Regions from separate parts of the Homo sapiens genome. Here region 1 is linked to region 2. The links come from fine-mapping of genetic effects on gene expression. Tissue or cell type: esophagus muscle. Region 2 holds a variant in brackets; the other region holds the start of a gene. All regions are shown on one strand. Distances are from middle to middle.

What was found. PIP is the estimated chance that this variant, and not a neighbour inherited with it, causes the effect.
Region 1: it holds the start of NOP56, and the variant in region 2 is fine-mapped to the expression of NOP56 in esophagus muscle (GTEx, PIP 0.97).

The regions. Positions count from the first base shown.
Region 1 is chr20:2,651,619-2,654,118 of GRCh38, reverse strand. NOP56 (NOP56 ribonucleoprotein) reads right to left here and starts at 1,487. Exons shown (of 12, transcript NM_006392.4): 1 at 1,456-1,487; 2 at 1,188-1,277; 3 at 726-840. The coding sequence starts at 1,458. MIR1292 (microRNA 1292) reads right to left here and starts at 1,342; the gene lies at 1,277-1,342. LOC105372505 (a long non-coding RNA gene) reads left to right here and starts at 1,655. Exons shown (of 5, transcript XR_007067502.1): 1 at 1,655-1,759. RefSeq lists an enhancer at 774-863 and a silencer at 1,364-2,003.
Region 2 is chr20:2,673,485-2,676,237 of GRCh38, reverse strand. All of the region lies in intron 2 of LOC105372507 (a long non-coding RNA gene), which reads left to right. Among named protein-coding and RNA genes, the nearest start is that of IDH3B-DT, 11 kb to the right of the region's middle. The variant A/G (reference allele first, on the strand shown) is at 1,645.

The DNA.
Region 1 (2,500 bases), 22 kb after region 2:
AGAATTTGCCTTCTGGAACCAAACCTTTTTTTCTCAGCCTGTGTTTACCCAACTGCCCTTTCCAATCGAACAGAAAGCAGAGAACCAGACACTTGATTGTGTTTAGGCAAAACCTCAGGCACAAGTAGGTGTTAAGCCGACCCCCTTTAAGAAACCCCCCTTTGTCGGCCGGGCACCGTCGCTCGCGCCTGCAACCTCAGCACCTTGGGAGGTCGAGGCGGGCGGATCACGAGGTCAGGAGATGGAGACTAGCCTGGCCAACATGGTGAAACCCCGTCTCTACCAAAAATACAAAATTAGCCGGGTGTGGTGGCTGGCACAGGCCTGTAATCCCAGTTACTCGGGAGGCTGAGGCAGGAGAATCGCCTGAACCAGGGAGGCAGAGGTTGCAGTGAGCCCAGATCTTGCCACTGCACTCCAGCCTGGGGGACAGACTCCATCTCAAAAAAAATAAAAATAAAAAATAGTTTGTCACTACAGTGCCCACAAGGAAACGTTAACACACATTCCACATCGTCTGCTTAAACAGTTTGGTCTAGCACAGTTCCCAGACCTTGAGCTCTGTGAAGACAATTATTTCAAATTACACATTGTATGGCTCAAATACTGCCTCACGCCTATCAGACTCAGAGCCAGCCAAGGACGGCAAATACTATCACAAGCTGCCCGAGAGGATACCGAAAGGAACCACATCTCTCTGTGACACTTGGCGGTGGCCGACTTACCTTCAGACACGGCGTTGGCATTTTCCAAGGCAACCTGGGATGAGGCAAAGGGACAAAAGGCCACCAGACGAACGATGCTGTGGAATTTGCCCAGGTTGAGCACAGACTCCTCCACCTGGGGGGAGAAAGAGGCTAAGTGGTTTCCTTCCCTCCCTCCTGCCTCTGCGGCGCAGTCAAGCAGCGGTTCTCAGCCTTGGAAGCTCTTAAAATATGCTGATACCTGGGCCCCACATCCCAGCTTCTGCTTTAATCGTTCGGGGGCGGCGTCCGGGAGGCTTATTTCTAATTGCTAGAGCGATTCTACCCATGGGTCAAGGTAAAGACCCCCGGATCTAGAGCTTTCCAGGCCCGTCCCCCCGCCCCGAACCGCTCGGCCGGCCACGTGGGAGCGCGCTGTGCATGCTGGGACCCGCGCGATGAGGGTCTGCGGGGCCGCCAAAGGAGCCCACGGATCTCACCCACCTGCGGCTGCAGCAGACTGATCTCCTCCACTTCCTTCAGCGCCAGCAGCGCGTAGCCGACCGCGTGCTCAAACAGCACGTGCAACAGCACCTGGAACGGGAGCCGGGGCGCGAGCGTCAACGCAACCTCAGCGTCTGCCGGAACCCGTTCCCAGGGCAGGCGCAGGCGCAGGCGCAGGCCCAGGCCCAGGCCCAGGCCCTGTCTGCGGCCCGAACGCAGGCCGAAACCCCCACCGTCGCGTCGCCCGCGCCCCGCAACCACTCCTCACCATGGCGCCAGCTCCCGGGTTCGGCTCGCAATGCGGCTAGCGCGCTCCGGCGCGCGGAACCAGGCTCCAGAGGCCACGCCCCCGCCCCCCCGACCAATCGGAGGCCGGGGACGACACCATCTCCGGCCTTTGGAGGGGCCGCCCAGGGTGGTATCGCCCGGAGCGCGGGCTGGGTGGTGCCGAGCGCGGGCGAGCGGGCCTTTTCCGGCCTCTGCAGCTGCGCGGGCGGGCGTGGTTGCCGGGGACGCGCGGCCCCCGGTCGGGCACTGCAGGCGGCGAAACGACTTGGGAAGGCCCTTTCGGGGTAATAGTCCGGTTCCTGATGTTCTTGTCATATGAGTTACGGGCAGCAGAGCTGGGTGAAGTCGGGGCGGGAGGTCCGCGTGGGGCGCGGCGTCCATCCCAGACAGAGACCGCTGCCTAGCCGGCTTCCCGCTTCGTCCGTGGCCTCGGGCCCCAGACCCTGCGCCCCACGTCCCCGGGACCCAGGCGTTCCCGTCCCCTACTCGGGGACGAGCCTCCCCGGCGCCGGGTGGGCGGTGCATCCTTTCCTCCCACCCGTAACGGGAGCGGTGCCTGGCGCGCTCTGGCGCAGACCCTGCTGGGAATGTAGCTCGCGCAGTTTTCTTCGTACTATTAATTTATTTCTTTTTTTTGTTTTTGGTTTTTTTTTTTTAAATGACTGTAGCAGGCAGTAACGTGCGAAAGAAAGACGCTCCAGCGTCTTCCTAGGCCAGTTTCTTGTTGCTGTGCTGCACGGGACCCAGCTCCTTTTGCTGGGCCACGTGTTGCTCCTCCGCTTGGGCGGCCCTGAATTCTGGGCGCTGGTGATCGCTGAGTGAATCGCAGCTGCTTCCCTGTCCTTGAGGGCGTCTTTTGGGCACTCAGGCGACTCTTTAGAAATGAGTTTTGCTTTAATAATTAATATTAACGTTATAAATCCAAAACCTAGTTATACTTAAGTAGCGTATCCCCTGGTATGTTTTAAAGAGTCATTCGAAGGGGATTTTTAAAAATAATGTATAGCTATAAACTGCATTTATAC
Region 2 (2,753 bases):
TTATTTATTATTATTTTTTTAAATTTGAGATGGAGTCTCGCTCTGTTGCCTAGACTGGAGTGCAATGGCGCGATCTCGGCTCACTGCAACCTCCGCCTCCTGAGTTCAAGCAATTCTCTTCCCCTAGCCTCCCAAGTAGCTGGGATTACAGATGCACGCCACCACGCCCGGCTAATTTTTGTATTTTTAGTAGAGACGGGGTTTCACCACGTTGACCAGGCTGATCTGGAACTCCTGACCTCAAGTGATCCACCCGCCTCGGCCTCCCAAAGTGCTGGGATTACAGGCGTGAGCCACCACGCCCAGCCCATGCCTGTTTTTGGTTCTGCATAGCTGGTGCTGAGGTTGAACGTGGACACTATAAGGTGTCAGCCTAGCCAAACCATCATTGTACCAGGCCAGGTGCCTAGGGAACCCTCTGTGACTTGAGGGCCCCATTGAGCCAGCAGCTTTGCTTCAAGTGGTGAAGTTAGGAAAAGATTTCCCCTGAAGGGATTTTTGCTGCCACTTTTTCATGTAAAACCCAGCTAATATTAGGACCAGGCCAGCTGTGTTACTGAATACAGTATTTCCATTGGATTAATAATGCCTTTTGTGCCCCTCCCTTAGTAGCCACCAAATCCAAGTTGACCCATCCCAAAATGGGAGTGTCAGTTTGGAGAGTCACAGGAACTTTTTGGGTCAGTAACAAGTTAGTGGGCACCTTTTTAAAAAGGGGATGGGGGCCTGGCATGGTGTTTCATGCCTGTAATCCCAGCACTTTGAGAGGCCGAGGAGGGCAGGTCGCTTGAGGTCAGGAGTTCAAGATCAGCCTGGCCAACATGGTGAAACTCTGTCTCTACTTAAAAACAACCACCAAACAAAAAAGCCAGGTGTGGTTGCGCATGCCTGTAGTCCCAGTTACTCGGGAAGCTGAGGCAGGAGAATAGCTTGAACCTGGGAGGTGGAGGTTGCAGTGAGCTGAGATCATGCCACTGCACTCCAGCCTGGCAGCCGGGGAGACAGAGCAAGACTCTGTCTTAATAAAATAAAGTAAAATAAAATAAAATAAAATAAAATAAAATAAAATAAAATAAAAAAGAGGGGATGGGGCCGGATGTGGTGGCTCAGGCCTGTAGTCCCAGGGCTTTGGGATTATGGAGGGAGGATCACTTGAAGCCAGGAGTTCAAGACCAGCCTTGGGAACAAAGCAAGATCTCATCTCTACAAAAATGTATTTTTAAAATTAGCTGGCATGGTACGTGGTGGCAGGCACCAAGCTACTCAGGAGGCTGAGTGGGGAGGATTGCTTGAGCCCAGGAGTTCCAGGCTGCAATGAGCTGTGATTGTGCCACTGCATTCCAGCCTGGGCGACAGAGAGAGACTGTCTCAAACAAAAAAGGGGGATGGGGGAGGGATGGGGCCAGGTGTGGTGGGATGGAAGGATCACCTGAGGGCAAGGAGTTTAAGACCAGCCTGAGAGACCACGTCTATGAAAAATTTTGTAAAATTAGCCGGGCATGGTAGCTCACAGTTGTCGTTCCAGCTGCTCAGGACAGTGAGGTGAGAGGATGGCTTGAGCCCAGGAATTCAAGACTGCAGGGGGCTCTGATGGTGTCACTGCACTCTAGCCTGGGTGACAGATCAGCAACCACTCTCTAAACA[A/G]TTTTTTTTTTTTTAGGCCGAGTCTCGCTGTCACCCAGGCTGGAACGCAGTGACGTGATCTCAGCTCACCACAACCTCCGCCTCCTGGGCTCAAGCAATTCTCCTATCTCAGCCTCCGGAGTAGCTGAGACTACAGGCGCATGCCATCATGCCCGGCTAATTTTTGTATTTTTAGTAGAGACAGGGTTTCACCATATTGGTCAGGCTGGTCTTGAACTCCTGACCTCAGGTGAACCACCTGCCTCGGCCTCCCAAAGTGCTGGGATTACAGGCGTGAGCCACTGCACCTGGCCTCTAAACAATTTTTTTAAAGCTATGTGCTTGGTGAGTGTGTCAGGCAGGTGGTGCTATTGTGCTTGAGAACAGCCTCTGAGTAATCTGGCCACCTTTGAGACTAATTTTCAGATTTCCCTTTTCCTTCCTGATTTTTTTTTTTTTTTTTTCAGATGGAGTCTTGCTCTGTCGCCCAGGCTGGAATGCAGTGGCACGATCTCGGCTCACTACAACCTCTTCCTCCTGGGTTGAAGCGATTCTTCTACCTCAGCCTCCTGAGTAGCTGGGATCACAGGCGCCCGCCACCACGGCCGGCTACTTTTTGTATTTTTAGTAGAGACCAGGTTTCACCATGTTGGCCAGGCTGGTCTCAAACACCTGACCTCGTCATCTCCCAGCCTCAGCCTCCCAAAATGCTGGGATTACAGGCATGAGCCACTGCACCTGGCCTCCCTCTTGAAAGTCTAAACTGTTTCTCCTGGACCATCTAAGAGGGTTCAGAAACCACCTTTCCACATGTGGCAGTCTCTGAAAGGGCGAATCCCATCTGACACTTATGGGCATTGGCAGTACAGGCCGGTATGAGCATCAATACCAGTAATACATTTGCAGTGAAAGCCACTGAATTGGCCCAAGGGCCCCACATGGAGCGTTACTTAATTTGCCTTCTTCCACTGCAAACTTTGCTCAAAGCCTATCAGTTGAACTTGGGGGATTTTTTACCTTCTGGGAAAACAAACCAAGGTGTTTAGTGTGTGCACATCAGGAGCAAAAGCAACAGCTGCCGGGAGCTCAGGCTAGCTCACAGGGTGCAGCTAGGAGGCTTTTATTTCTCC